Linked DNA regions of Homo sapiens: regions 2 and 3 are each reported to be linked to region 1. Evidence: microRNA targets listed by miRTarBase, many of them from high-throughput screens and not tested one by one. Region 1 holds a microRNA gene; each other region holds the end of a gene's coding sequence. Distances are between the middles of the regions.

The links. Region 1 holds the annotated microRNA hsa-miR-6798-5p (CCAGGGGGAUGGGCGAGCUUGGG, at 6,149-6,171, shown strand). A microRNA usually pairs through its seed, bases 2 to 8, with sites in the 3' UTR of a target mRNA and lowers its output. Matches are read on the target gene's strand: a 7mer-m8 pairs with bases 2 to 8, a 7mer-A1 pairs with bases 2 to 7 and ends in A, and an 8mer does both.
Region 2: miRTarBase lists CALML3 as a target of hsa-miR-6798-5p. Seed matches in the 3' UTR shown: 7mer-m8 at 7,126-7,132 and 7mer-m8 at 6,193-6,199.
Region 3: miRTarBase lists COLGALT1 as a target of hsa-miR-6798-5p. Seed matches in the 3' UTR shown: 7mer-m8 at 6,487-6,493.

Annotation. Positions count from the first base shown.
Region 1 is chr19:49,003,763-49,014,313 of GRCh38, forward strand. MIR6798 (microRNA 6798) reads left to right here and starts at 6,144; the gene lies at 6,144-6,210. It overlaps RUVBL2 (RuvB like AAA ATPase 2), which reads left to right. Exons shown (of 15, transcript NM_006666.3): 4 at 515-656; 5 at 3,256-3,385; 6 at 3,540-3,606; 7 at 6,014-6,120; 8 at 6,211-6,304; 9 at 6,726-6,849; 10 at 7,237-7,331; 11 at 7,430-7,548. RefSeq lists enhancers at 566-1,065, 5,678-6,179 and a silencer at 8,002-8,176.
Region 2 is chr10:5,522,195-5,532,745 of GRCh38, reverse strand. It overlaps CALML3 (calmodulin like 3), which reads right to left and starts at 7,785. Exons shown (of 1, transcript NM_005185.4): 1 at 5,975-7,785. The coding sequence starts at 7,660. The coding sequence ends at 7,211. It overlaps CALML3-AS1 (CALML3 antisense RNA 1), which reads left to right and starts at 6,500. Exons shown (of 3, transcript NR_120497.1): 1 at 6,500-6,613. RefSeq lists enhancers at 6,080-6,780, 6,781-7,480.
Region 3 is chr19:17,578,757-17,589,307 of GRCh38, reverse strand. COLGALT1 (collagen beta(1-O)galactosyltransferase 1) reads right to left here. Exons shown (of 12, transcript NM_024656.4): 10 at 9,699-9,826; 11 at 8,403-8,609; 12 at 6,151-8,131. The coding sequence ends at 7,864. Among named protein-coding and RNA genes, the nearest start is that of COLGALT1, 28 kb to the right of the region's middle. RefSeq lists enhancers at 9,074-9,368, 9,203-9,412.

The sequences.
Region 1 (10,551 bases):
GACATCTCGGAAAAAAAAAAAAAGAATTGGGAGTGGGTAGCAATTGCTTTGCCACCTTAAAAAAAAGTTAGACTGGGTGCAATGGCTCACACTTGTAATCCCAATACTTTGGGAGGCTGAGATGGGAAGATTGCTTGAGCCTAAGAGCTTGAGGCCAGCCTGGGTAACATAGTGACACCTCCTTTCTACAAAAAATTTTAAAAATTAGCTGGACATGGTGGTGCACATTTGTGGTCCCAGCTACTCAAGAGGCTGAGGTGGAAGGATCTCTTGATCCCTAGAGGTCAAGGCTACAGTGAGCCATGATTGTACCACTGTACTTCAGCCTGGGTGACAGAGCGAGATCTTGTCTCAAAAAAAAAAAAAAAAAAAAAAAAAGCAGGGAAAGCTTTTTTGGCTTTTCCTAGAAGTCCCAGCTAGTAATGTCTGCTTCCATCTCACTAGCTTCCTGATGTGGTAGAAATGCCATGGTAGCCCCACAGGAAATCACCTCATGTGCGCCTCCCACCCACAGGCTTCGCAAGGCATGGTGGGTCAGCTGGCGGCACGGCGGGCGGCTGGCGTGGTGCTGGAGATGATCCGGGAAGGGAAGATTGCCGGTCGGGCAGTCCTTATTGCTGGCCAGCCGGGCACGGGGAAGACGGCCATCGCCATGGGTAAGAAACCTCCCAGGGCAGGAACTCTCCTGTTTCCTGCTAAATAACTCCTCCTGTGTAAGTCAGGGTCAGGATGAGCCGCCTTTAACAGATGACCCAAAATGGCAGTGGCTTAAACACTCAGGATTCATTCTTGCCCATGGAAGAATCTAGAGGTAGGCCATTTGGGGCTTATTAAGCAGTTCCAGGAAGTCTTCCATCTTCCTGCCTCACCATCCTCTGCACTTGGTTCCAGTCAAGAGGACGCCATGTTCCAAGAGGGCTGCCAGAGCTCCAGCCTTCCCACTCATAACCCAGGCAGCAGGAAGAAAGGAGTTGCCATGAGGATGAACCCCCTCGAGTTGGCTTCCTTTAAACAGTCATTGGAAATCCTCCATGCTTCTGCTTATATCTCATTATCTCATTGACTAGAATGTAATCATATGATCACACTCTGCTTCAGGGGAGGCTGGCACATTAAATGTTTTTTAAAATTTCATAATTTGGACCATTTTTGCCTTAAGAAAATGAGGATTCTTCTGTTGGGCAAAAGGTTGTTGTAAAAATAAAAAATTAAAAAAAAAAAAACAGGAAAGAAAATGAGGGTTCTAGAACTAAGGAAGAAGGGGAAGGTGGGTATTGAGGAGTCACCCAGCAGTCTTTGTTGCAGTCCGCTAGTGGTTTATGATCTTTTCACTCCCAGCTGTTCCTCTTCTTCCTTGTTGAACTCCTATTTATCCTTCAAAACCCTACTTCAGCATCTCTGCCCCATTGAAGCTTTTCCTAACCCACTGCTCTTCCCACTCACTCCCACCTCTGTGCTGAGGCTGGGGCCAGGCAGGGAGAATCAGAGTAACAGCCAGGTCTTCAGTGAAGATAAAGCAGTGCCTGTTGGGGTGCTCGGACTGGACACTGGGGACCCATAGATGAGTTAGACCAAGGCCTGACTTCAAAGAGCTCCTGGTCTGGAGGAGGTGGTCATGGACACGATCCCTTCCAAGGCGACATGTGTTACAATGCAGGTAGCATGTGACAGAGGAGGCTCCTGACCTTGGTAGGAAAACGGGGCATGTGGTGGCATTTGTTGCTAGAGGCTTCCAGAGAAGCGGATACCTGAGCTAAGCCTAGTAGGATGGCCAGGAGGCTCCTGGGCGGACACTGGGGACAGCATGTCCAGGCCCAGAATGTGGCACACACAGTAACTTCCTTCCCTCCATCCTTTCTGCTTTCCTACTCTTCTTCATTTTTTTTTTTTTTTGAGACAGTTTCACTCTGTCGCTCAGGCTGGAGTGCAGTGGTGTGATCTTCGCTCACTGCAACCTCTGCCTCCTGGGTTCAAGTGATCCTCCTGCCTCAACCTCCCAAGTAGCTGGGATTACAGATGTGTGCCACCACACCCAACTGATTTTTGTATTTTTAGTAGAAATGGGATTTCACCATGTTGACCAGGCTGGTCCCGAACTCCTGACCTCAGGTGATCCACCCCCCTGCCTCGGCCTCCCAAAGTGCTGGGATTACAGGCGGGAGCCTGTAGACTTTATTTTTTAGGCATGTTGTGACTGTGCCCGGCCTCGCCTTTCCTCTTCTTGTGTCTCCCGCAGGCCTCCTGCAGGCCAAACCCTGTGCTGGGCAGCACTGGGGTGAGGCTAGCCTCGCCCTGGCGGGGACGCTTCTTAGTCTAGTGAAAGAGGCAGAGAGGACCCCTGGTGTCCCCAGATGGCATGGGCCGTGCTCGTCCACTCAGCCCTCAGCAGATACTTGCTGAGTTCTGTGATGAGGGCCATTGTGTATCCGCAAAGAGGACTAAGAACAGGTCCCACTTGACACTGGGCAGGAGGGTGTGGTGTCAGCCTGTCTGAAAGGGCGTGCCCCACATTGGACCAAACCTTGTGGCCAGGGAACTGGAAGGAAAGGTCTGGCGTTCAGAGCTATTGCTGGAGACAGACCTGCTTCCTGCCAGCCACCCCAGGCCACCGGCGGTAGAGCGTCCTGCCCTGTGCCAGTTTCAGGCTGCGCAACCGTGTTACTGCTGAGCACCAGTGCCTGCCTGCCTGCCTGCCCATAGTCACTCCTAAGCAGGGTGTCATCCCATGCTGGCACGTGTTCTGTTATCATCCCCATTAGACAGAGGGGGAGACTGAGGCTCAGGGAGCAGTTCAGATCGCTCAAGATCCCACGGCGCCACCTGCACTTAAGTGGTGGATCTGGGATGGGAGCCGAGGCAGTCTGCCTTCATCACTTGTAGCTATCGTGTGGGCTCCTTGGCCTTCGTCCCTGGTCCCCTTCGTCCAGCTCTGAGGCTAAACAGCTCGTAGAGGCTGGGAGACTGAGGTGTGGCGAGGTTCTAGGGTGTACCCTCTGGGCAATGTGGGATTCTAAGCCAGGCCTGCCGGAGCAACCTGCCCTGCCTGGCTTCTCACTCACTGTCTGCCTCATGGCTGAACCCCGCTCTCCAGTTCCCCCTCCCCAGCGCTCTGCTCAGCTCGGAGCCAAGTCCTTACATGTAGGATGGCACTGAACCCTCTTTCCTGGGGTGGGAGAAAAGCTAGTTTGCCACAGAGCAGGTGTCGGGGACCTGGTGCCAGAGCGGCTTCACCTACACAGACTGCCTCCTTCCCAGGCATGGCGCAGGCCCTGGGCCCTGACACGCCATTCACAGCCATCGCCGGCAGTGAAATCTTCTCCCTGGAGATGAGCAAGACCGAGGCGCTGACGCAGGCCTTCCGGCGGTCCATCGGCGTTCGCATCAAGTAAGCGGGGGACCCGAGGCGGGTGCCAGACCCCAGAGCCTGGGAGCAACCCCGCACCCCGGGCGGCTCGTCCTTTGTCCCAGAGCTCATGGAAGGTTGTGATTCCCGAGGGTCCAGGTGTCAGGCTGTCTCCTCAGATCTGCTCTCTGGCTAGGGAGGAGACGGAGATCATCGAAGGGGAGGTGGTGGAGATCCAGATTGATCGACCAGCAACAGGGACGGTGAGTCTGTGTGAGTCTGTACCCTGCTGAGGCCACCTCCAGCGCCAGGGTTGGAGAGAGTAGATATCAGGTCTGCACTGAGGTCAGAATCCCATGGAATGTTCTAGCTGCAGACTAGAGCCATGTACATGCCTACAGTAGGAGGTCAGTTAACTTGACAATGGCTTATCCCCTTATGAAGGACATTATGGGCAATAGAAACTGAGGCGGTAAAATAATGAGAGAGATCTGTTAGTGAGTTCCCAACAGACCTCAAAACCCAACAGACTTCAAAACTCGTTCCGTGGCCGAAAGGCATGTCCTGTCCATCTTACATGATACAGGTGATTTGCTCTCTCTTTTTTTTTTGTTTTCGAGACAGAGTCTCCCTCTGTCCCCCAGACTGGAATGCAGTGGTGCAATCTCGGCTCACTGCAACCTCTGCCTCCCAGGTTCAAGTGATTCTTCTGCCTCAGCCTTCCGAGTAGCTGAGATTACAGGTGTGTGCATGCCACCACGCCCGGCTAATTTTTGTACTTTCAGTAGAGACGGGGTTTCACCATGTTGGCCAGGCTGGTCTTGAACTCCTGACCTCGTGATCTGCCCACCTTGGCCTCCCAAAGTGCTGGGATTACAGCCGTGAGCCACCATACCTGGCCTCTTTTTTTTTTTTTTTTTTTTTTTTTACAATTTCTGTTTTCTCCTTTTTGCATAGCTGTGTTTTCTGATTTTGTGATCAACAAAAACACTTTTTATTTGGGTATAAAATAGGAATGTCAAAGTGTGACATTTGGCAATTTTGCGAGACCTCGGGCCTATGTTGTTTTTGATAGACTTTATTTTTTAGGCATGTTGTTTGTTTACTATTTTTATTTTTTATTTTTATTTTATTTTATTATAATTTTTTTTTTGAGATGGAGTCTTGCTCTGTTGCCCAGGCTGGAGTGCAGTGGCACAATCTCAGCTCACGGCAAGCTCTGCCTCCCGGGTTCATGCCATTCTCCTGCCTCAGCCTCCCGAGTAGCTGGGACTACAGGCACCTGCCACCACGCCCGGCTAATTTTTTGTATTTTTAGTAGAGACGGGGTTTCACTGTGGTCTCGATCTCCTGACCTTGTGATCTGCCCGCCTCGGCCTCCCAAAGTGCTGGGATTACAGGTGTGAGCCACTGCACCCTGCCTGTTTACTATTTTTATTAAGAGCTTTATTGAGTTTTGGCCAGGCGCAGTGGCTCACACCTGTAATCCCAGCACTTTGGGAGGCTGAGGTGGGCGATCACTTGAGATCAGGAGTTCGAAACGAGCCTGACTAACATGGTGAAACCCTGTCTATACTAAAAATACAAAATGGCTGGGCGCGGTGGTTCATGCCTATAATCCCAGCACTTTGGGAGGCCGAGGCGGGTGGATCACCTGAAGTCAGGAGTTCAAGACCAGCCTGACCAACATGGTGAAACCCTGTCTCTACTAAAAATACAAAAAATTAGCTGGGCGTGGTGGTGGGTGCTTGTAATCCCAGCTACTTGGGAGGCTAAGGCAGGAGAATCGCTTGAATCTGGGAGGCAGAAGTTGCAGTAAGCCGAGATCACACCATTGCACTCCAGCCTGGGCAACAAGAGCGAAACTCCATCTCAAAAATAAATAAATAATAAAAACACAAAACAATTAGCTGGGTATGGTGGCACACATCTGTAATCCCAGCTACTTGGGAGGCTGAGGCAGGAGAACTACTTGAACCCGGGAGATGGAGGTTGGAGTGAGCTGAGATCACACCACTGCACTCCAGCCTGGGCGACAGAGCAAGACTCTATCTCAAAAAAAAAAAAAAAAAAAAAAAAAAAAAAAAAAAAGAGCTTTATTCACCAGGCGCAGTAGCTCACTCCTGTAATCCCAGCACTTTGGGAGGCCGAGGTGGGCAGATCACAAGGTCAGGAGATCGAGACCATCCTGGCTATCACAGTGAAACCCCATCTCTACTAAAAATACAAAAATTAGCCATGCGTGGTGGCGGGCGCCTGTAGTCCCAGCTACTCGGGAGGCTGAGGCAGGAGAATGGCGTGAACCCGGGAGGCAGAGCTTGCAGTGAGCCGAGATCATGCTACTACACTCCAGCGTGGGCGACAGAGCAAGACTCCGTCTCAAAAAAAAAAAGAACTTTATTGAGTTTTAATTGACATACAGAAAGCTGTACACATTGCAAGTGTCCAGTATGGTCCGTTGGGACATACATGTTCAGCCGCGGAGCCATCACCGCGTCAGGCTGGTGAGCGCACCGTATGTCTTCCCTGGAGAGCTTCCTTGTGTTGTGCCCATTTTGAAGCTGTGGAAGCAGAGGCCAGAGCAGAGCCAGAAGCTTATCAACACTGGGGGCACTGGGGCAACATCAGGGCCCTCTCTGAGCCCCATCCCTGGCTTGTCCCCACTCTCAGGGCTCCAAGGTGGGCAAACTGACCCTCAAGACCACAGAGATGGAGACCATCTACGACCTGGGCACCAAGATGATTGAGTCCCTGACCAAGGACAAGGTCCAGGCCGGGTGAGCAGTCAGGGGCCATGCCAGGCAGCCAGGGGGATGGGCGAGCTTGGGCCCATTCCTTTCCTTACCCTACCCCCCATCCCCCTGTAGGGACGTGATCACCATCGACAAGGCGACGGGCAAGATCTCCAAGCTGGGCCGCTCCTTCACACGCGCCCGCGACTACGACGCTATGGGCTCCCAGGTGCGGCCGGGACTCCCGGGATCCCCTCGCCCCCAGCACTGGGGTGTTTTCATCTCCTCCATCACCCCCTTGACCCATGGGGTCTGGATCTTCCTGTTACCCTGACTGTTTGTCCTGGTACTCCTGGGTCTTCCCTGTAACCCTAGGACAGCAGGGCCCCTCAGCCTGGCACTATAGCTTCGCATGGCCACATGTGGCCTGTGGCTTCTAAGGTCCTCCGGGAGCCCCCGTGACCCTCAGCGCTCTGGAATGTCCCTAGTCCTGACTACCTCCTGGGCCTGGGGTTTCCAGATGACCCCATTTAGCCTCCCAGCTCCATTTCCTGGAGCTCCAGTCTCCCCCAGACAGAGGGCTTTAGGGGCCCCCTTCATGCCCTTCCCTGCCCTGTCTCCGCCGTTCTTCCCCCACCCCCGCCCCATAGACCAAGTTCGTGCAGTGCCCAGATGGGGAGCTCCAGAAACGCAAGGAGGTGGTGCACACCGTGTCCCTGCACGAGATCGACGTCATCAACTCTCGCACCCAGGGCTTCCTGGCGCTCTTCTCAGGTGAGGCCCCTCCTGCCCTGCCCTGCCCTGCCCTGCCCCAGGCCTAGCAGCCTCCCTCGGGCTCCCTCTGTTCCTGAGCTCCGAGTGTGGCCCACCTGCTCCACGCTGTTTCCTGTAACTCCGGCCCGTGGCTGCCTCTGTTCTCCACCTGCAAGTCCGCTCCGTCCCCACCCCTGCTGGTGCTGTGATGGGTGTGGCCCTGCCCTCTCCCCTCCTGTGTTCTCTGCCTCTGTTCCTCCTCTTTGGGGATGTTTCAGGCTCCTCATCCCTCCTTGCTTTGCTCCCCTTCCTCCATCCCTGGCATCATCCTTCTCTGTCTTAGCCACACTCTGGCCCTGGAACCCGCCTCCTCTCTGGCTTCCCTGATGCAACCTGTGCCTCCCATAGGTGACACAGGGGAGATCAAGTCAGAAGTCCGTGAGCAGATCAATGCCAAGGTGGCTGAGTGGCGCGAGGAGGGCAAGGCGGAGATCATCCCTGGAGTGAGGACCCAGGACATGGCCGGGGCGGGTGGTGGGGTGGAGGTGGGCCGGGGAAGTGGGGACGCGGGTGGTGACTCTCACACACACCCCAATCCAAGGTGCTGTTCATCGACGAGGTCCACATGCTGGACATCGAGAGCTTCTCCTTCCTCAACCGGGCCCTGGAGAGTGACATGGCGCCTGTCCTGATCATGGCCACCAACCGTGGCATCACGCGGTGAGCCGGCTACAGGGGCCTCTGGGGAAAACAGGATGCTCTGGGCAGTGGGTGTGGTCAGAGGGTCAATGGGAGCCTGTGTTGACACCGGGTCAGGGAGGGACGCGTGACTGCAGTGTGCGCTCTTTGCTTACAAAAGGCGGGTGGGAGGCAGCTCTGCTTCCCGAGGAAGCCCAGAGACTGTGTTCTTGCTGCCTTTCTGTCTTGCTGCTCCTTTAGCCCCCAAGGCTGCAGTCTTCAAACTGCGTGCCGAGGCACCCCAGGGTGCTGCAGGAAACTCACAGGAGTGCTGTGGGATGTTTTCTAGTCTTGAGGGAAGCACAGTGACATCTGTTAGACATAACATAAACTACGATTGTTCAGTCACTTCGACCCAGCAACTCCATTAACAGAACTCTTAGCGTTGTGTTTGGCCTAAGGATGCCAGGGACAGATTCCCATGACACAGAGGGTACCGTGCTCTGCTGAAGCCTGGGAACCTCATCTCCCAGGTGTTGCCAGCACCCTGTGCACGGGGAACTCTTAATGTTGTGTTTGGCCTGAGGATGCCGGGGACAGATTCCTGTGACACAGAGGGTACTGTGCTGTGCTGAAGCCTGGGAACCTCGTCTCCCAGGTGTTGCCAGCACCCTGTGTAGCTGGGATTACGGGCACCTGCCACCATGCCCGCTGGCTGTCTTCTCCACCTCGCCACATTTTGGCCCGCAGGAAGCAGGGGGATGTGGAGGGCAGGCAGCCCCCATAGGCTGTGATCCACAGGCTGCACCCCAACCTTGCACCCCCATTCCATTGCCCGGCACTGCTTGGGCTCAGTGCTGTACCTGGTGGCAAAGAAGGCTGGGTACTGTCAGCTCCAGCCCTGCAGCCTTGGGCCCAGCTGAAACTGGGCGGTTGGGATGGGCATCACAAAAGGGAAGAAGCGGGCACCCTACAGAGGATGCTGGGCCGCTGGGCCTGGCTCTGTGTTTGGCTCTTTTAACTCCTTGGATCCGCAGAAGAAGCTCAGAAGGTAGATATCACCTCAGCCCCATTTTATAGGGCAGGACAGTGAGGCCCAGTGACTTGCCCAGGTCACAAGTCTAGAAGGTAGCAGGGCCGTAATTTGGTCTCTGGATGGCTGGACACTGGAAGAGACCCCCAGGGCTGATGGTGTTTTCACAGAAACTGCAGGTCAGGGCCTGGGGACTGCCCAGGGGCACCTCCTGTGGGAGGCAGCAGCTACGGGCAGCCCTGATTGTTCGTAGACTCTGTATCTGAGAATCTCGCTTGCTAAGATTTATTTGTAATCCCCAAATAAATATCTGCCCTGCTTTCGGCAACAAATTCAAGTCACCTGACACCCACTTTCCCAGCTGAGTGTGAACGAGGCAACACTGCCTGCTCCCTTAGCGCTCATGCTGTAAATAAGTGTCCTTGTTGTATTCTATTTAGTGCTACGTTTGTCACTTTTGTTCTTTGAGACAGGGTCTTGCTCTGTCGCCCAGGCTGGAGTGCAGAGGCACGATCATGGCACACTGCAGCCTCAGTGCCCACCACACACACACACACACACACACACACACACACACACACACCACCCCTGGGACTCAATCAGTCCTCTGGCCTCAGCCTCCTCATCAGCTGGGACCACGGGCATGCACCACTATGCCTAGCTAATTTCTGTTTTTGTTTTGAGACGGAGTCTAGCTCTGTCACCAGGCTGGAGTGCAGTGGCACGATCTCGGCTCACTGCAACCTCTGCCTTCTGGGTTCAAGCAGTTTTCCTGCCTCAGCCTCCTGAGTAGCTGGGATTATGGGCACCCGCCACCATGCCCAGCTAATTTTGGTATTTTTAGTAGAGACAGGGTTTCACCATATTGGCCAGGCTGGTCTCGAACTCCTGACCTCGTGATCTGCCCACCTCAGCCTCCCAAAGTGTTGAGATTACAGGGGTGAGTCACCGCGTCCGGCCTAATTTTTTTTTTTTTTTTGTAGAGATGGTGTTTTGCCATGTTGCCCAGGCTGGTCTCAAACTCCTGGGCTCAAGCAATCCACCCGCCTCAGCCTCCCAAAGTGTTGTCACTTTTTTTGTGCCTTTTTTTTTTAAACTTTTTGGGGCCATTTGTTGGTGATATTGCCATTTAAAGTGTCCCCTGTGCACAGTGTTGAAGTGCTGTCTAGTATCCTAAGTGCAAGGAGGCTGTGAAGCCTGACGGAGAAAATGCCATGTTACAGACGCTTCGCTGAGCCCAAGTTAGAATGCTGTTGACACGAGCTCCATGTTAGAGAATAAACAGTGATGTTACATAACAAACACATGGAAATAGAAACACACATACATGAGGCCAGGCGCGGTAGCTCACACCTGTAATCCCAGCACTTTGGGAGGCCGAGGTGGGTGGATCACGAGGTCAAGAGAATGAGACCGTCCCGGCCAACATGGTGAAACCCTGTCTGTATTAAAAATAGAAAAAACTAGCTGGGCGTGATGGCGTGCGCCTGTAGACCCAGCTACTTGGGAGGCTGAGGCAGGAGGATCGGTTGAACCCGGGAGGCGGAGGTTGCAGTGAGCCGAGATCGCGCCACTGCACTCCAGCCTCGCAACAGAGCGAGACTCCGTCTCAAAAAACAAACCAAAAAGACCAGAAACACACAAATGAAAATACGCATAGACCCAGATTATATATATATGGATTGATGAAAATACTGTAAGCCGAGGCTCGAGAGAGCCTAACCCTGTATTCCAGTAGGAGCAGTGGCTCAGGATCAGCTAATTGGAGTGTTCACGATGACTTTCTAGAACCTCACTACTGTGAATAAGGGGAACTGACTGTATCCCCTGGCACCAGCCCTGGGCTGGCCCCGCTGCAGCAGGGAACAAGACAGGTGCAGTCCCCTCCTTTGTGAAGCTTTGTGTCGAGCACGGGAGTGGGACCTTGATCCAGTAATCCTGGAGGCAGAGATCTAGCTTAAAGCAGCCCAGCTCCGCGGAAAGGTGCCCTTGGGGGACTGACGCAGCTGTGG
Region 2 (10,551 bases), not on the chromosome of region 1:
ACAAATACGTGGACACATGGAGAGGGGCTGCTGCTCTAGACTCTCACAAACATAGAGAGAATAAAGGGGCCAGTGGGGGCAGTTACATGGAGGCACCTTTCAGACCTGTTTAAGGAAAAGCTTTCCGGGGATAGCAATTTTCCAACCTTTGGGCAACTTGCCTTGACCTCCCTACCATGGTCGCATTCAAGGTCGTGCACACCTGCCATTGCTTACGATGTCATCACTCATAGGCCTCTCATCCTGCATGGGAAATTAGGCCAGATAACCTCTATGATGCTGTGCAAACCTAGGCGTCTACAAGCCCAAACGTTGATCTCAGCCTGACTCTCACCCAGCCTCGGGCCCTGCGGTACCACGTCTGTGCTGTCTTCATGCCCAGGTTGCATCCCAGGCGGTTACACCCTGTGCATGGCTGTGCCGCCTCCAAGGATCCTTCACTTCCTCAGCAGAACTGGGGTTGGGAGAGCAGGGGCTTTCCTGGGATGCTCCGCTGCTCCTCGGCAGGGCCAGACTTTGAATCCCACCCACGCATCTACGGTCTGGAAAGACACACCAGAATTTGTCAAAAGACAGTTTCCCATATTCAAGGGATTATTTCCCTCCTTCTCCTTCCTTTACCCTTGGATCCTCTCCAGAATCAAGTGGATCTGACTCCCTGCATCCCCCGGGGAGTCACTATGAAGTCAGAATTGGACTCAGACAAAGGACGGCTCTGGACCAAGTCCCCAGCAGCCCTTGTGGACCTTGGAGCAGGGAGAGAGGCCGTGAATACACCTGACCCCCTTACAGTGGATGCTTGGGGGCTGCCATAACAAAGCACCACAGATCAGATGCTTCAACCACAGGAAGGTCTCATCCACAGTCCTGGAGGCTGGAAGTCCAAGGTCAAGGTGTTGGCAGGGTGGGTTCCTTCCAGAGGACTCTGGGGAGGGGCTGTTCCAGGCCTCTCTCCTGGGCCTGTGGACAGCTGTCTTCTCCCTGTGTCGTCACACTGTCTTCCCTCTGGGCATGTGTGTCCACGTGTCCCACCCTGACAAGGTTATATTGGCTGAAGGCCCACTCTCATGACCTCGTTGTAGCTTGATTATCCCTGTAAAGACTTATCTCCAAATAAGGTCATGTTCTGAGGTCCTGGTTGGTAGGACTTCAACATATGAGTTTTTGGAGGCAGGGGGCACAATTCAACCATAGTAGGGTCATGTGGCTTTTTCTGACTGCCCATCACCTGCACCCCGAGATGTGAGTTTGGATGAGAAGCTGAGAAGCCCAACACCTCCCAGCTGCTCTGCAATAATGAATGGTGAAGGTTCGTGTAGCACTTTGGCTGCAGACAGATGCGCGTGTGTGGAGCAGGGAGCGGATTGGGACCTCCTGTCGCAAAGATGTGCCCACTGCAGGATTCCCTCTTGTTTTCTGGGACTGCAGCGGCCCCAGCACCTGCATGGGGTCCAGTGCTGGGCCAGAGGGGCAGTGAGACATCACGTCTCACGTGGCAAGTGGGCAGTCCACCAGCACTCCCTCTGCAGATGCCCACACCCAGACACAAGGGGTCCTGTGGCTCCTGGATATTCCTGGCATCGATCAATTCCTTTTCTTTTCTCTAGGTCCTCTCTGCCCAGACAAATTCTGCCTGACAGCTGTTTCCCACTTCCAGGCCTTTCCTACCGAGATCTCTCCAGCACTCACCGCCTCTGTGAGCTCAGCGCCTCTCGGTTTCAGGCTCCTTGCTCTAAGAACTCCTCTCTGGCACAGTGGGAATAGTGTGAGCTTTGGGGTCGGTCAAACCCAGGGTCAAACTCTGATTCACTAGATGTATGGCCTTGGATAAGTTATTCAAAGTCTCAAAGTCTTCGTCTTTTCTTCTCTGAAACAGGCTAAAACAAGCTACTGCACTGACTTGTTTGGAGGATTAAAGGAGCTAATGAAATGCAAGACAGGTGCCTCCCGACAGTGTGCCCCAGTGAAGGCTGAGCTTCTATCATGGGGGGCCTTCAGACCAGAGTCTTCAGGTGTGCAGTAGGCTATAGGTGAGACTGGTTTGGCTAGTGATGACAGGAGATGAATTTCACCATGGGCCAGCAGGGCCACATGTGGTCAGTCTTCAGGAAGTCACTCCCTGGATGTTCAGCTCCCCAAGGTGTGCAGGGCCACCCAGTTGGCTCTCTGAGGCCTAGGCCCACCTGCTATTCACCCTTCAGATGTTCCCCTCCTTATGTTCCCTAAGAGCCTGGCTCCTTTCCCCTCCCGGGTAGTTCGCACACACTACAAGACGTGAAAGACCTGAAGAAGGTGTTTAGGGGACTGCATGTGGTTCCTTCTGTTATTATTCCGATAGGTACTTTCTCCTCCAATTATGGAAACCCTGCCATTGTTTCTAGGTCTATTTAAAGCTTCTCACTTCCCTGCACTTTGAGGAAGGTGCTTGTCCCACCCAGTACTCAGCACCCAGCCTTGTCCCTGTTAGAAAGGGCTCAGAGGAGGCCTTTCCCAGGCACTTCCCTTTCTTGCCCAGTCCAGACCCCTGAGAACCTGTTGCTATGGAAATGACTACCAGAAAAGCAAGATGGTGAGGAGATTGACACATGGTTTGGGGCCAGACCTTTCTCAGAGGTGGTTTTTGGTCTTGTTTTACTTTATGTAGCTTTGTTTTTTGGTGGAGAAACACAACTCATATTCCCCATTGCTACCATTCTTCATGGAGCAGTCTCACCCCATACACGAGTTTTGATACCACATTTCTCTAGCGGAAGCCGTGGGTCATTTTTAGCTGGCTGGTTCTGGGAGCCTTTGAACAGGCCTTTGGAATCTTTGAGGATAAACAGGAGCCGGCAGGGCTGGGCTGCATTCGATTTAAAATTGGAAACACGGGAGTCAGAGGCGAGCTTTATATAGTCTGGGAGTGCAGGAGCCCCAAGTCCTGATTTATGAGGGAGCTCAGTAAAGCACATGGAAGCCAAGGTAATATTTATAAATTCCTTTCCCCTAGGATGGCTGGAATGTTGTTTTGAGCTGCAGTCAGATTGCACCTTTTTGGGGGCTGAGGGCAGGTTGTTTAAATTAGGTTATTCAATGACTGAAAAGAAAGGGATATGCCAGTTGGGCAACTGCCTCTAAGTCTCTGCCACAGAAAAACACAGGGTGGAAGAAAGCTCCACCCGCAGGGCTGGGTCCCTCTGGAGAACCCTGTTTGCCCATTTGGGTGGCTCCTTCCTCCTGCTCCAGCCCCCAGGCCTCCCCTTGCCTATGTCCAACAGGCGAGCACCCACCCCTGGCAGCTGGAGTGACCACATTTTACCAACAAAAAAGTTTACCTTGACATCTGGGTTTGGGGCAGGCTCTTTGGAAGTGCTGACCAGGGTGGGAAAAAGGAAGGGAAAATAAGATAAGGGGAGATGGGGAGGAAGCTAAAGACAGGCCCAGGTGTGACCTAGGTAGACCTGGATCCCGAGGCTGTTGTGTGAGAGGACACACTCACTGCCGTGGGTGAACTGAGTCAGAGTAGCTGATGCCATGCCGTGGAGGTCAGCAATGCTAGCCCGGTGAGAGATGCATTCATACTGTGGGTTTGGGGTCTGCTGGTGAGGGCAGGGGGTTCCCTGGGCATCACGCCCCGTGAGGCAGAAGGAGCCGTGCCAGAGAGCACTGTCAGAGCTGCGTCCCCCTCTGGCCTGGTCTTCCTTACCCCAACACAGAAGGTTGGGAGGGGGCAGAGCCATGTGGCAGCAGACGGTGCTCACTGTGGTGAGGGCAGTGACCCAGCTTCAAGGAGAAGGGCAGACAGAAGATGTTACTGAACAATCATATTCAGGGCCGGGCACGGTGGCTTGTGCCTGTAATCCCAGCACTTTGGGAGGCCAAGGCAGGAGGATCACTTCAGGCTAGGAGTTTGGGTAAGACTGGGCAACATAGAGACCTCACCCCTCCAATTTTTTTTTTTTAATTAGTGGGTCATGGTGGCACGCGTCAGTCCCAGCTACTCTAGAGGTCGAGGTGGGATGATCACTTGAGCTCGGGAGGTTGAGGTGGGACCATCACTTGAGCTTGGGAGGTTGAAGCTGCAGTGAGCTATGATTGCACCACTGCACTCCAGCCTAGGTGACAGAGCAAGATCCTATCTCAAAAAAAAAAAAAATGTGTTTAAACACCAAGGGGGAGGGGAGGGGTCATTCACCTTTGCCACAGGACGCACTTTGACCTTGCTGCCTCTGGCTTCTGTCTGTATAAAGAAGACACCTCCGGCCAGGCGCGGTCGCTCATGCCTGTAATCCCAGCAATTTGGGAGGTTGAGGCGGGCGGATCACGAGGTCAGGAGATCGAGACCATCCTGGCTAACACGGTGAAACCCCATCTCTACTAAAAACATAAAAAGTTAGCCGGGCGTGGTGGTGGGTGCCTGTAGTCCCAGCTACTCGGGAGGCTGAGGCAGGAGAATGGCGTGAACCAGGGAGGCAGAGGTTGCAGTGAGCTGGGATCACGCCACTGCACTCCAGCCTGGGGATCAGAGCCAGACTCTGTCTCAAAAAAAAAAAAAAAAAAAAAGACACCTCCACTTACTACTCTGCTTCTGAGGACTCCCCCTCAGGGAGGATCTGGGGCTGCCAGTTCTAAGCTGAGAGCAGGTAGGACCTTTCCACCACCCCAGCCAGTGCCTGCCTGAGCACAAAGAGCTCTTGATGAAAGGCTCCCAGCACCTGCAAAATCCAGGCCCAGGTGGCTCCAGAATGACTGGTGTGTGGGGTTGCAAAAAGACCTGCCCTGGCGGAATCGCTGGGAGGCTGGGAGGAAGACAAATAAAGACACTGGCGTGCCCTCCTGGCCCAGGCATTGGCAGTGCGTAGGTCCCAACCCTTGTAAGAGCCTCAAGCCTGCACCTGGGAAGAAGGGGCTTAGATGTCAAACCTCAGCCACGTGTATGACAGTGACTACAAAGATGCCCTGTGCAGGGAGACCTTGGTTTCTCTCCTTCCTGCAGAATTTAGGAGACATTCTACAAAAGGTACTCAGGCCTGATGTACTATTCCTTTTGCCTGGCGGTCAGCAGCCATGTGGGGGCTTCTGCCTGCCCCTCCTGCTCACAGCCCCCCACCCCCTGGGGTGCTGCTGCCCAATGAACTCTAGACACTCTGTCCATGTGTTTATGAGGCTTGTTCCCAAATCTTCCCCAGGACGTGTCCAATCAACCCCGACTCCTGAGAGTGGCAGGGAGGGGTGGGGATTTGCTCAGCAAGCTGAGCCTTAGCTTGCCCTCTGCTTCTGTTCCCCTGACAGGAGTACCTGCAGTTACACCGGCCCTGGGCCAGTGCTCACCTGACACCCCACCATCCAGCATCCCCTCAGGAATCCAGCCCCAGAGCACCTGCTTCTGCCCCTTTCTGCTCTTGTCTTGTTCTCGAGCTATGGAGAGGGGTGACTACCCTGGACAGTCTTGCAGTATTAGAGCAGGAAGGGATCTTGAAGGTGATGGTAACAGTAGCTGCCATTATTAAGCACCTACTACATGCCAGGTGTGTTAAGAATGTTGTTCTGGCTCCTCACAAGTGCTGGAGAGAGGCGCTACCGTAGTTACCATGATGGAGGCACAGGTTGGTGTCAGACCTGTAGCTGAGTGGTCAGGGCACAGACCTGACTGAAATCCCAGGTCTGCCTCTTACCCACTGGTGGGACCCAGGGCTGCTTTCTAAAGCCCTCTGTGTCTCCACTTCCTCGTTTGTAAGATGAGGAAGGTAATAATAGTGGCTGCCCCATAGGGAGGTGCCAATTGTCTATGCAGGCCAAGTGCTTGATGGTGCCCTGAGCCCAAGCAGGTGGCATGAGGGTCCTGTCATCCTGGAGGTCCCAGTGGTGCAGTGATGATGGCAAGGCCGGGGCTGGGGCCCAGCTCTTTGTTTTACAAAGGAGGAAACACTGGGTGTTGGTGGGCGGGGGTGGGGTGTCAGGGAGAGAGGATACATCCACCATGGCCTTTTCTGATGAGCTCCGTCTAGTGCCCATCCCGCAAAACATACCTCCCTTTAGAATTGAAGGGATCTCTGGCAGGGCCCCTTCGACCTTCTCTAGGTGTTGCCAGCAGCTTGCAGGGCTAGTGCAGGACTAACGGCTCTGAATTGCTCTTACACTGTGTGTGCCCAACTGCCCCCCAACCCCTCACCATCTCTAGTGCCTGGCACTTCACAACCAGGGAGCACTTGCCAGGGGGAATCAAAGCAATCAGCAGGTCCCTTCTCAACGTAATGGACTCAGGTCTTTCAAGTCCTGATGGACTTTTAACCACTCTTTGCTGCCAGCGTATCCATTTGATTGAGAATATTCAATATTTCCCTCATCCAGACTTGTCTCTCTCTGAGGCACCTTTCCCGCTCCCCCGTATAGGAATTCATTGCATTTTCAAAAAGCACAAAAATGGAGATTCCTGCCTCGTTTCAACCCTGAATTTAACAAGGATCATTTCCATGGAAACCAAAAAAAAAAAGGAAATGAAATAAGGACGAATATCTCATTTATTTCCCTGCAGCTCTCATCCCCTGCTCATCCAAGCCTCCCTCCTTCCAGATGAATAGGAACAGGTTACAGCTGACCCAGTTTCACTCCCAGCTTCAGAAGATGAATCACGGTGGGTTGGCGGACAAGGAATGGGGCAAGCTGGGGCAGCGCGGAAGGCAGTGCTGTTTTCAGGAGGCCTGACCTCTGTGGCCAGAGTCCCCGTCAGCACCGCTTACTGCAGGCCAAGATGCCTCCCACCCTCCAGAATCCGACCGCGGAGGGAGCTTCCAGTCCAGGAGCCTGCGGGAATCCTGGCGGGGGCTGAGGGCTGCAGCCCCCCTGGCCTGGGCATTGGGTGCCTCTTAGGGATCTTGCCTGGGTGCCCTAAGGGGTCACCCGGTGTCCGTCCTGGAGGGCCGCAGAGTCAGCGCAACCTGCCCTGGTGCTCGGTCCTAAGGTCAGCTCTGCTTCTCCCGAGTGGGGAGGGCGTCACGGTTTGCCTGCAGTGGGAGCGTTCCGTGTCATTCAGACGAGCAGGTGGGAAGGTCGGCAGGAGTGCAGAGAAGAGACGCGGGAAGCGGGATGCAGAGAGGTGGGCTGAATCAACCAGGCGCAGGAGGAAGCCACAGTGCCCAGGGGAGGCAGGGGGATGGGGGAGGAGGCGGGAGGCCCCGGGTTCTTGCCCTGTGGGCCGCGTGGGCGCCCAGGAGCATGGTGGGCGCCGGCCTCACTTGGACACCAGCACACGGACAAACTCCTCGTAGTTCACCTGTCCGTCTCCGTCCGTGTCCGCGGCCCGGATCATCTCGTCCACCTCCTCGTCACTCAGCTTCTCCCCCAGCCGGGTCATGACGTGTCGCAGCTCGGCGGCGCTGACGAAGCCGTTGCCGTCCTTGTCGAACACGCGGAAGGCCTCGCGGATCTCCTCCTCGTTGTCCGTGTCCTTCATCTTCCTGGCCATCATGCCCAGGAACTCGGGGAAGTCCACGGTGCCGTTGCCGTCCCGGTCGATCTCACTCATCATGTCCCGCAGCTCGGCCTCCGTGGGGTTCTGGCCCAGGGACCGCATGACCGTGCCCAGCTCGCGGGTGGTGATGCAGCCGTCCCCATCCTTGTCAAACAGGGAGAAGGCCTCCTTGAATTCTGTGACCTGCTCCTCAGTCAGCTGGTCGGCCATGCCAGGGGTGGGGGCGTGGGTGGCAGAAGAGGCCACTGTGGGGTCTCCCTCCCAGTGCCGCAGCCCGGCTGCTGTCCCAGCTCTGGGGTGGCAGGTGGAGATCCGGGCGGCCGGCGGGCTGTCTCGCCCTGGCTTGAGACGCTGGAGCTTAAGAAGCAGCAGAGTCCTCCCCCATCATTGGCAGACGCCCCTGCCCTGCGGTTGCCCGGGCCTGTCCTGTTTAGACAGGAGTCCAGGGCCTGCGAATCGAGCTGACGCCAGCACCTCTGTGCCTGCTTGCACCTGGACCCAGCAGAGCCACGGGGGCCCCGAATCACACCTGCAGTCAGGGCGTGGTGGGTGAGCTTTGGAGCAATCCACGCTGGACTCCTTCCTCCTGAATTTCCCTTTCTCTCCTCCCTCCCCGTCTCCCACCTGCCGCCTGTCTCCCACTCAATAAACTCCAGTGCCCTTTCTTCCCTTGAGTGGAGGGCTTTTTGCAGGATGAAAGGCAGATGAAAGAAACGTCCTTGCCTTTGGTTTCTAAAGCCTCATATAGAACAGGAGGGTTTTTGGAGGAGGAAGGTTTTCCCTTCAGGTAGAAGCAGCGAGTTTTCTTATCTTCAGAATGGACATGAATAGGGAGGGGTTTCCTCCAACCCATTCACTCATCCACCCTTTCACAGATATTTGAGTGCCTACTAGGTGCAGTGTCACTCTGGAAGCTGGGAACACAGTGGGACCGGCAAGCCACCCCCAGTCCTCGTGAGGTTAACTAGCAAGACAGCTAGTTTGCAGGTCAACTGATCGAGGAATGCAAACAAGGTGACTAGGGATTATTGATAAATGCTGATGGACATACAAGGTGGTGATGGACAGGACCCCGAGGTCACCTTTCAGCCTGGTCAAGGACAGACCTCCTGCTGAGAAGCAGCTGTCTAGGCCGGAGTGGCCATGGCAGGGCCAAGGGCTGGAAGATGATCAGTGGGGCTGCAGGCCTGTGAGGGAGGGGACAAGGAGGAGAGACAAAGGAGACCTTGAAGGGCTCAGCCAGGAAGTCCCACTATCATTCTCTGGTCCACATTGCCCCAGGAGCTCCGGGCAGCATGGAGCTGGGGCTGTGGAGCGGCCTCTCCCAGAGGAGACCCGCTTAGGGGGATAGTGGGGTGTTCACAGCACAGACTCGGCTCCCACTCCCAGGGGGCCTGGAGACATGACCCCCAGAGAGGCAGGAGCAGGCGCTTCACCTGTGGGAATCCAAGAAATCCACACTGGGGGAGAAACATGGAGCCCACTCTATTTTTTGCTGGGTGTGTGGGGGTGGGGTAGAGACCGGAAAGGGAAAGAAAGTGTCCTTTTGAGGACCTGGACTTGCCGAGGAGAGACTATGGCAGGAGAAGGGCTCGGATATTCATTTTTTTTCTCTCTGATTTTCCTTCCCTTCTCTATTCAAGTAGAGGCAAGTGTGTCCTTCTGGTCTGGAGGGGGTCTGTGGTAGGGGGAAAATTGAAGCCACCTGCAAGACACCTTCCTTCCTACCTGAGGGCTCCCACAAAGCCTGTGTCCTGAGGGTTTGGGCAGGAGGAAGCAGGAAGGTTGAAGAATCCCTCCATCCCCATGGAATCTTTTCCTTAGAAGAGAAGTTTGTGGACCCCAGAGCAGCAGGGCTCAGGGATGTGGTGGCCACAGGCAGCCTTGGCAAAGAGCCCTGGGGCCCAGGGGTGGCGTGGAGGGAACGAGGTGATGGGCATCTTGGAAGCCACGTGTGTGGGTGACACTTTGGTGACCAGATCCCACCCTCCCCTCCTTTCTCACCCCAGAATATTCGGCCTTGCCTGAGACCTCACACCCCAACAGCTCTAGGGGAGTGGGGAGATGGGCTGGCCAGGACTCCCTGGGGTAGGAGAGGGGCTGATAATAAAGTTTAGATTTAGAGAGAAAAATGAGGCAGCATCTCCATTTGCAGGCTGGGAGCATGCCCTGGGCCCAGGTTACAGCTCTGTCCACAGGGGGCTGCGCAAGAAAGAGTGTGTGCTTTGCTCCTGGGAGCCCCGCCCTTCCTCGAATATTCTGGAGATCTCTTTTGTGGTGGGGAGACCCAGCAAAGGCTGCACACACAGCTTGCTCAAGGTCACCCCATGAAAAGTTCAGCTGGGGATCAAGGTCCCTTTTTTATTTTGGGGTTTTTTGGGGGCTAATTCTGGGACATGGGGACCTTCTGTCACCTTCTGAGAAGGGCTCTTGATTGTACACTGGTGCCTGATGCCTGAGTGTTAGAATTCATATCCCAAACGCACTTTAAAAATATTTAAATATCTCCGCTCTAGATCACCCGAATACCCAAAAATAGCAGGTTAGTAACAAATACCTGAAATTTCCTCCACACCATGAAATAATACACAGCCTTTAAAATGAGGATGAGGATATAACAATGGAAAGGTTTCCATGGAAAATTTTTAAAAAGCAGATAGAAAACTGTATATGTGATATGATTTCATGTATTAAACATTTATATATGTTTATTTATATACATTCACAGAAGAAACGCCTAGATAATCATGTACCAAACTCTTAATAGTGGATACTTTGGATAATAGGATTATAAGTGCTTTTAATTTTCTTATAAATGTAGTATCTTTGCTCATTTAAAAATGTTTTATATTTGCCATATATCATTTCTATTATTAGGGGAAATGACTGAAGATTCAAAAACCATCCCTGATAAAAAATATTCCATATCTTACTGAACTCCCAATATTCTTTCTCTTTCTCTGAGGTTAGGTAATGTGGAGGGCCTGGTAATATTGTCAGCTTTATATCTCTCAGAGATATGAGACTATGGTGAGCATAGCTATTATTATGTATAGAAAAGCAGAATAATTAATAGCCAATAACCACACCCCCTATTTGAC
Region 3 (10,551 bases), 31 Mb from region 1:
AGCGAGACTCCGTCTCAAAAAAATAAAATAAAATAAAATAAAATGCCTCTGGAGTATGAAAATGTTTCTCTTCATTGAGCAGAAGTGTGGTGTTCTCTCCACCAAAGAAATATTTAAAGCAAATTTTAATTATGTCCTAATTCATTGTGTAATGTCTTCACTATTCAAATTTAATGTATTTCTTGCTGAAAGACTTGAGGTAGCTTATTATGCAACAAATTACTCAATTGGTTAGAAATTGGCCAGGTATTATCTATGAAATATTTGTACTGGTTTGAAGATAGTCCCTCTAAGTCATCAATGAAAAAATAAAATAATTTACAAAAATAAATGGAATGTAATCTACTCCATTACAGTTAAGCTCAGGATCCAGAGTTTGCTTTTGAATTCTAAAAAAAAAAATTGTTTAAAGCATAAAAAAAAAGATGCCAGTGGGGATGGGGCATGGTGGTTCATGCCTGTAATCCCAGCACTTTGGGAGGCCAAGGCAGGAAAATCACCTGAAGTCAGGCGTTCAAGACCGGCCTGGCCAAAATGGTGAAACCCCCTCCCTATCAAAAATACAAAAATTAGCTGGGCATGGTGGTGGGCGCCTGTAATCCCAGCTACTCGGGAGGCTGAGGCATGACAATCACTTGAACCTGGGAAGCAGAGGTTGCTGTGAGCTGAGATCGTGCCACTGCACTCCAGCCAGGGTGACAGAGCTGGACTTAGTCTCAAAAAAATTAAAAAAAAACAAAAAAGATGCCAGTGGGTTTCAGAAGCCAGAAAAGACAAAGAGAAGGATTCCCCCCTAGATCCTCCAGAAGAAACCAACCCTGCTGACTTGAATTTATTTTTACTTATTTATTTATTTTTAGAGATGGGGGTCTCACTATGTTACCCAGGCTGATCTTGAACTCCTGGGCTCAAACGATTCTCCTGCCTCGGCCTCCCGAGTAGCTGGGATTACAGGGTAGCTGGGATTACAGGTGTGTGCCACTGCACCCAGCTTGATTTTTTTTTTTTTTTTTTTTTGAGACAGAGTCTTGCTCTGTTGCCCAGGCTGGAGTGCAATGGCCCCTATCTCAGCTCACTGCCACCTCCGCCTCCCGGGTTCTCCTCAATTCTCCTGCCTCAGCCTCCCAAGTAGCTGGGACTACAGGTGTGTGCCACCATGCCCAGCTAATTTTTGTATTTTTAGTAGAGATGGGATTTCCCCATATTGGCCAGGCTGGTCTCGAACTGCTGACCTCAAGTGACCCACCCACCTCAGCCTTCCAAAGTGCTGGGATTATAGGCGTGAGCAACCGCACCCAGCCTCAGCTTGATTTGACATTAGCCCAGTGAAACTGATTTCAGAATTCTGGCCTTCAAAACCATACAAGAATACATTGATGTTGTTTTAAGCGACTAAGTTTGTGGAAATGTGTTAGAGTAGCAATAGGGAACTAATAGCCAATAGACCAACTGAAGGGTGTCCCCATGAATAAGAATCACTTTACAATTAAAAATAGCATTCATAAAATAAAGGTGCCAGGTGCAGTGGCTCATGCCTGTAATTCCAGCATTTTGATAAGCTGAGCGGGGAGGATTGCTGCAGCCCAGGAGCTCGAGACCAGGATGGGCAACATAGCAAGACCGTCATCTCTACAAAAAATAAAAAATTAGCTGGGCATAGTGGCTCATGTCTGTAGTCCTGGCTACTTAGGAGGCTGAGGTGGGAAGATCACTTAAGCCTGGGAGCTTGAGGCTGCAGTGAACCATGATTGCACCATTGGACTCCAGCCTAGGCAACAGAACGAGACCCTGTCTCAGAAAATAGTAATAATAAAATTTTTACAAAGACAAGAAAAGTATACATTGTGTGTGTGTGTATTTAGAAAGTTCCAGAAGGAAGGATGAGGTTCTCCTGAAGGTGCAGAGGTCAAAAGCAACACCAGAGTTACATAACTGTTTGGGGGCCTTCAAAATAAAATTTAATTCCCAGGCATCACCTCCAAGTTCTTTTTTTTTTTTTTTTAGATGGAGTTTTGCGCCCAGGCTGGAGTGCAATGGCACGATCTCGGCTCACTGCAACCTCTGCCTCCCCAGTTCAAGCGATTCTCCTGTCTCGGCCTCCTAAGTAGCTGGGATTACAGGCATGCGTCACCACGCCCAGCTAATTTTTTTGTATTTTTAGTAGAGACAGGGTTTTGCCATGTTGGTCAGGCTGGTCTCGAACTCCTGACCTCAGGTGATCCTCCCGCCTCGGCCTCCCAAATTGCTGGGATTACAGGTGTGAGCCACTGCACCCAGCTACCTCCAAGTTCTAATCCTTTAGTCTGTGAGCAGAGCCTGCGAATCTATGCTTTATTCAGATAAATTTCATAGTAAAGGAAGCTTCACTTCGTACCACAGAGAAGATCCTTCTAAAGACTCATGTCCCCAAGAGGCTGAAAGGAATTGGGTACAGGGATTCTTTTTTTATTTTTATTTTTTCGAGACAGGGTCTCGCTCTGTAGCCCAGGCTGGAGTGCAGTGGTACAATCACTGCTCACTGTAGCCTCAACCTCGTAGGCTCCAGCAATCCTCCCATTTCAGCCTCCCGAGGCTGGGGGGCACAGACACGTGACAACACACATGGCTAAGTGTTTCTATTTTTTTGTAGAGACAGGGTTTTGCCCAGGCTGGTCTCAAACTCCTAGGGTCAAGTGATCTGCCTGCCTCAACCTCCCAAAGTGCTGGGATTACAAGCACGAGCCACCATACCTGGCCGGGTACAGGAATTCTTAGTCTCAGCACTATGAACATTCTGGACTGGAACGTTCTGTATGGTGGGGCGTCCTGGCCATTGTAGGATATTTAGCTGCATCCTCCTGCATAGGATGTACAATGTAGGATGGTGTTAGCATTGTAGGATGTTTAGGGGACATTGCCAAATGTCCCCTGAAGAACAAAATTACTCCTGGTTGAGCCTCACTGGGTTAAATAAGATTTAGAAACTTCCCTGCAAAGCATGAGAAAAAAATCTTTCACAGAAGGGGCTGGGTGCGGTGGCTCATGCCTGTAATCCCAGCACTTTGGGAGGCCGAAGCGGGAGGACCACCTGAGGTCAGAAGTTTGAGACCAGCCTGGCCAACATGGTGAAACCCTGTTTCTACTAAAAGTACAAAAACTAGCCGGGCATTGTGGCAGGCGTCTGTAATCCCAGCTACTAGGGAGGCTGAGGCAGGAAAATTGTTTGAACCCAGGGTGGGGGCGGAGGTTGCAGTGAGCCAAGATCATGCCACTACACTCCAGCCTGGGCGACAGAGTGAGACTCTGCCTCAAAGAAAAAAAAATGTTTCACAGAAGGGACTGTTTAATAAACATGGATAATTCACTCTGGCCAATAGATGATGAATAGTTAGGATTCAATAAGAAAAAGGAATATGATAGCCTCTACTGAAACCTGAAGTGCACATCCAGGTTAATCCAGGAATCCCACCTGTCTCAATTTACCCAACTGAAATTTTAAAATCCAGTAGGAAGCCAGGTGCAGTGGCTCACGCCTGCAATCCCAGCACTTTGGGAGCCAAGGCGGGTGGATCACTTGTAGTCAGGAGTTCAAGACCAGCCTGGCCAACATGGTGAAACCCCATCTCTACTAAAAATACAAAAATTCTCCAGGTGTGGTGCGGGCGCCTGTAATCTATTACTCAGGAGGCTGAGGCAGGAGAATTGCTTGAACCCAGGAGGCGGAGGTTGCAGTGAGTCAAGATCGTATCACTGCTCTCCAGCCTGGGTGACAGAGTGTGACTCCGTCTCAAAAAGCAAAACAAAACAAACAAAAAAACACAAAAAAACAAAAAATCCAGTAGGAAAGATGTATTGTATAATGCTATCCACTGCAGGAAACAGCAGGGAATATTTTCCATAACAATCCAAAAAGAGCTCGTAGATGTTAACCCTATTTTGGAAAGGAGGTCCACAATAGTTGTTAAATTTAAAAATAAAAGTTGTTTTTTAAAAAATAGGTACAGTTTGATCCCATGCTTAGAAAATAAAAGTGCATTCCACGAAAAATAAAACGGCAAGTTGCAGTAGCTTAGGTAACATGGTCCTCCTTTTTTAAAAAATGCATATATATTTACACCATGCAAATAAGGAAGGCTGGAAAGTTTTTGAAAATGTTAGTTGTGTCTGAAAAGGTGTGATTTAATTTTTGCTTTGTCAATTTGCTTAGCTGTAAGTTCTGATTTTTTCCACACTGATTGAACACCATCAGTGTTAGGGTTTTTTGTTGTTGTTTGTTTTTTGTTTTTTGAGACAAGAGTGTTGCTCTGTCGCCCAGGCTGGAGTGCAGTGGCGTGATCTCGGCTCACTACAACCTCCGCCTCCCAGGTTCAAGTGATTCTTCTGCCTCAGCCTCCAAGTAGCTGGGACTACAGGCGCTCACCACCATGCCCAGCTAATTTTTCTGTATTTTTAGTAGAGACGGGGTTTCACCATATTGGCCAGGCTGGTCTCGAACTCCTGACCTCATGATCCACCAGCCTCGGCCTCCCAAAGTGCTGGGATTACAGGTGTGAGCCACCGCGCCTGGCCCCTGTGTTAGTTTATAAAAGTCTCGGGTATATTCTTGCACACCCTAAAGGTGTAATAATCCAGAGGATTTGTAAGCATTTGACCCAGAAAATCCAAATGCAACTGGGCATGTTGTAATGTCCAGCCCCCTCTCCCTGGGGTGGGACCACTCTTTCCCTTCTTGTCTCACTTCCCTACTGCTCCACAGCAAGTTCCTGGGGTCACTGATAACGTAAGTGCCCTTCAATCCTCATCTTGGAGTCTGTTTCAGGGGACCCAAACCATGACAGCCCCTCCTCATTTGAAGTCATCTGCGACGATCCTGTGGTTGATCCAAGATAGAATGAAGTTGGCCACCTGTCCCTGGGCTATTTCAGGGAAGTTTTCTGGTTTTGTTTTATAGAAACAGGGTCTTGCTCTGTTGCCCAGGCTGGAGTGCAGTGGTGTGATCATGGTTCACTGCAGCCTCAACCTCCTAGACTCAAGAGATACTCCTGCTTCAGCCTCCTGAGTAGCCAGATTACAGGTGTGCCCTACCATGCCCAACTAATTTCTCAATTTTTTTTGTAGAGACGAGGGTCTCACTCTGTTGCCCAAGCTGGTCTTGAGCTCCTGACCTCAAGCAATCCTCTCACCTCCTCAACCTCCCAAAGCATTGGGATTATAGGAGTGAGCCACCTCACCCAGCCTAATCCTTTTTTTTTTTTGAGATGGAGTCTCATTCTGTTGCCCAGGCTGGAGTGCAGTGGCAAGATTTCAGCTCACTGCAACCTCCACCTCCTGCGTTCAAGCGATTCTCCTGCCTCAGCCTCCCAAGTAGCTGGGACTACTGTCACACACCACCATGCCTGGCTGCTTTTTGCATTTTTAGTAGAGACGGGATTTCATCTTATTGATCAGGCTGGTCTCGAACTCCTGACCTCAGGTGATCCACCCACCTTGGCCTCCCAAAGTGCTGGGATTACAGGCGTGAACCACCATGCCCAGCCCTAATCCTCATGTTGAGGTCTGTTTTAGGGGGACTCAAAGCACGACAGCCCCTCTTTATTCGAAGTCATGTGGAAGGATCCTGAAGTTGACTCAAGACAGAGCTGTCGGTCCCCCGCCTGTTTGGGGGAAGTTTTATGGCATGAGGGGACACAGGGCTCTTACCACACCCTCACCCCACAGTAGCTCCACTGGCCAGCTTTTTTTTTTTTTTTTTGGTTTGATTGTGTCTTGCTCTGCCGCCCAGGCTGGAGGGCAGTGGCTCAATCTTGGGTCACTGCAACCTCCACCTCCCAGGTTCAAGCGATTCTCCTGCCTCAGCCTCCCAAGTAGCGAGGATTACAGGTACCCCCCCCCCGCCACCCCGCCCCACTACACTAGGCTAATTTTTGTACTTTTAATAGAGAGGGGGTTTCACCATGTTGGCCAGGCTGGTCTTGAATTCCTGACCTCAAGTGATCCGCCCACCTTAGCCTCCCAAAGCACCGGGATTACAGGCATGAGCCACCATGCCAGGCCCCACTGGGCAGCTTCCCTACTGCACCTGCCCTGGTTTCCTCCCAAATCTTGTCGGCCATCCAGGGGTGGGGAACGTGGGCAGTGTTTTGGTGCCGAGCAAAATCCCACAAACTGCTGTGAAAACCAACCAGGAACATTTATTAAAAAACTAAGCAAGTTATCCCCAAGAGGGTGAAGCACCGCTGGCTGGTTCTGACATTCGATTCAGGCTGAAGGCACGGCAACTCCTCCAGCCCTTGCTGGGAAATGTCCTACCCAGGCCACGGGCAGTGCCCCAGTGCAGCTGGGTCCCCTAAAAGCCCCCAAACACATGATCCCACCAAAGGCTTGAACAGAGCAACTTCATCAAGCAGGCAGGGACCACACCTGAGACACAAGGGCAAGGAGGTAAAGCACAGGGGACCGGGAGTGGGCCAGGGACACCCAGCCCCCGTCTCCAACTGGCGCCCCCTCCAGGGGGGCTAACATGTGGCGTGGGGCCACCAGGACCTGTGCTTGCCCCTGGTGGCGGAAGAGCTACCCTCCCTCTTGGGTGGTGGGGGGATGTTGTCTGCACACAGCTCAGACGACCGAGGGTACAGGAAGAATCAAACTCAGTCAACCATTCTTCAACCCAACTGGGAGTCTGTGAGGCCTGGCACACAGGTGCTCAATAAACACTTGTGGCATGAAGAAGTGAAGGAACCGATCTTGTTCATCTCTGTGCCCCAGCACTCGGCATGTAGCCCATGATCGAAAATGCAGACTGAACAACTGTCACACTCTTTTGTATCACTAGTGCCCGGCACACAGTCAGTGCTCTTCAGGTGTGTGGGAAAGAAGCCAATGAGTGAGAAGTTCCCACACCGTCTAGCAGTGAGGAAAAAAAGAAAAAAGTAAAAAGTACCTTGTTTACTCCCATTCCCATCCCATAGCTCAGCTCCCTGCACACAGCAGGTGCTCAGTAAGTGTACCGAATCAGGAACTTATCTTTGTGACATGAGTGCCAGGCACACAGTAGGTGACCAATATGTGCTTGAATAAATGGATAGAAGCATCTTATTTATCTCAATATTCCCAGAGCCTGGGCTGGGCACAGTGGCTCATGCCTGTAACCCTAGCACTTTGGGTGGCCAAGGCGGGCAGATCACTTGAGGTCAGGAGTTCGAGACCAGCCTGGCCAACATGGTGAAACCCCGTCTCTACTAAAAATACAAAAACTAGCCAGATGTGATGGCACGCACCTATAGTCCCAGCTACTTGGGAGGCCGAGAAACAAGAATTGCTGGACGCTGGGAGGCGCAGGCTGCAGTGAGCCGTCACACCACTGCACTCCAGCCTGGGTGACAGAGACAGACTCTACTCTTAAAAAAAAAAAAAAAAAAATCCCAGAGCCTGGAATGGCACCCAACACACAGTAGGCACTCAATAAATCCTTGAATGAATTTTAAAAATGAATGTGTATCACTAGTGCCTGATTCTTAATCTGATCAGTAACTGCTTGATGACTGAATCAATCGCTGATGGAGGGAACAATTATGCCTCATTCACTGCCGTAACATGGGAACCTTGCATACAGCAGGTGCTTAATAAATGCTGGGCACATGAACAGATGAAGAGGGCTTGGTTCCTCCCAATTCCCCAGGGCCAAGCCCTGTTGCTGGCATGCAGTAGGCACTCCATTAATGCTGCCTGTGTGCACGTGATTGCTTAGCAAGAGCTGGCTGGACACCACCCCACACGAGAGCCCTCTGTGGCCTGCCAAGGGGTCCAGAGGTGGACCTGATGTCCTCAGTAAGCACGTGGAGCCTGGGCCACCGATGGCTGCTTTGGCTTTCTGGCTGCTACCCCTCAGAGTTCATCCCGGGCAGCACTGTCCAGTGGGGACTGGAGCACGTCCGAGTTCTTGGCCTCACGGCTCAGTGCCTGCTGCTCCCGCATCTTCTGGGACTTGGCGCGGTCCCAGTCGGTCTTGACGTGCTCATTGTTCCATACGACTGAGGTCTCGGTGTCACTCACATAGCCATCGTCTCCTGTGTAGTGTGTGGGGTAGATGAGCAGCGGCTCCACAGAGAAGGCATGCAGGTTGCGGAGGGAGAAGTGGGCCTTGTACTCGGACCTGGGGGGAGGAGGAGGGGAGTGAGGGGCAGCAATGGCTTCAGGGGACGGGACAGCTGGAGGAAAAATTGGGGGTGAAGAAGTCAGCGGGGACAGATTAAAACGTAAGTGTGCAGGGGATACAAATGGAGACAGATCTGCGAGGGGGCAAACGGAGGGAGAAGTAGGCAAAAGAAGAGACATCTTCTCGGAGGCCGTGAGTCTCACATCCCCATTCTCCCAGGACAGACCCACCGTGAAACCCCAGCCCAGCAGCCGCCTGCCCCTCTCACACTGGGTGTTTGTCGAACATGACGGGCAGGAACTCGTCCACAGGCAGCATCTTGGAGAGCGGCTCAGCAGCCAGCAGTTTGCGGGCGCCTTGCAGGGAGATCACGTAGGCCAGGGTCCAGTAGGAATAGTCGGCCTCCACCAGGTTCCTCACGCGAGGCACAGCCTTCTCGGGGTGCTCCACCTGCATCCGCTTCCGGCCCACATAGCTGGGGTGCAAGATCGGGCCTGTCACTCTCCTCCCGCCCTCCGGAGGGAGCTTGCCCAGAAAGCCAGGGATCTAGTTACCCCGTCAGGTCCTGGGATGGGAGCAGGCTCAGCATGTTTGCAGAGCTCTGTGACTGGATGGAGTGAATGCAGGAGCCCAGGGGTCTGGCGGTCATGGGGGAGAAGAGTGAGTTTTTCCAAAGGGCGTGAGGGAGCCATGGAGGATCTGGAGCTGGGGAGAGCAGGATCACGCAGACGTTCTCTGAGGCTGAAGCTGCTCTGAGTTCAGAGGACAGTGGGGGTGGAGGTGGGCGAGGTGCCCTGATGGGGGGGCAGTCAGGAATGGAGGGGTGCAGTTACTATTCACATGGGGCAGTGTTCCCAGAATGCAGATTAGGGCACTGCACATGGAAGGGAAAAAAGAGATGGAGGAAGGGAGAGGACAAACCAGCCCACTTACAGAAGAGAAGGACGGCTCCAGTGCTGGAAACATGTTGGTGGCACTCCCATCCAGGGGCTTGTCTAAGACCAGGCGCCCTGGCCACGCCCCCACACTCTTCGGCCACACCTCCAGCTCTGACCACACCCCCATGCTCTTCAGCCACGCCCACAGGCTGCCCGGTCAAATTTTAGCCACATCCACCTCCACAGGCCTCAGTCAAGTCTCTAAGCCTTGACCAAGCCTGCAGGCTTCCGGCCAGGTCCCTTGAGTTCTGGGTGATCCTTCCAACGCCCTTCCCTATAGGCTACAGCCCTGACAGTGCCTTCAGGCCCAGGAACCACGTGAGCCCTCCTGCTACGCTTCCAAGGGTTGGCCACGCCTGCCACCCTGACCACACCCAGACATACAGGCTCTAGGCTCAGCTGCAGCGCTGTGGCCACGCCCGTAGGATTCAGCTCCACTCCGCCTCCCAGCCCCACCTCTAAGCCCTGGCCATGTACCTAGGCTCCAGTTCCACCCCACCTTCAAGCCCCGCCTCTAAGCCATGACCCATCCCCAGGTCCCAGCTCCACCCTGCCCCCACCCCCACCTCTAAGTCCTGGCCTTGCCCCAGGCCCCAGCTTCACCCCATCCTCAGACCCCCACTCACATGAGGTCCCAGTCCAGGCCCTCCCGCTCCACATCCCGCATGAGGTTCATCAGACGTCTCTTGAAGAAGATCTCAAAACGCAGGTCATCCTCAAACACAAGCGATTTCTGCAGCCCCCGGTCCACCACCTGAGGGAGGAAGCCCCGCCACATCACAGGGAGGCCAAGGCCAGGCCTGACCCTAAAGCACAGAGCTTTGCTTTGAGAAGGTTTGAAAGACCCGTAGAGAAGCCAGTGCATCTCCCTGCCTCTCCTAGCTCCAGGGACATCTGGACATCCAAACCTCTGCCCTCTGCCGTCCATAATGGATCTCAGAAGAGAAAGGCCTCCCAGCCCCTCAAATGCCCACGCCTCATGCACCTCCCGCCTTGCAGCCGCACACCCCCATTTGGCTTCACATTCGATAACAAGTTTTTCTTTTCTTTTTCTTTTTTTTTTTTTTTGAGACGGAGTCTCGCCCTGTCGCCCAGGCTGGAGTGCAGTGGAACGATCTCAACTGCAACCTCCGCCTCCCAGGTTCAAGTAATTCTGCCTCAGCCTCCTGAGCAGCTGGGATTACAGGCATGTGCCACTACGCCCGGATTTTATTTTTCTTTTTTTGAGATGGAGTGTCACTCTTGTCGCCCAGGCTGGAGTGCAATGGCATGATTTCAGCCCACTGCAACCTCTGCCTCCTGGGTTCAAGTGATTCTCCTGCCTCAGTCTCCCAAGTAGAGGGATTACAGGTGCCCACCACCACACCCAGATAATTTTTGTATTTTTAGTAGAGTCTAGGTTTCACCATGTTGGCCAGGCTGGTCTTGAACTCCTGACCTAAGGTGATCCGCCTGCCTCGGCCTCCCAAAGTGCTGAGA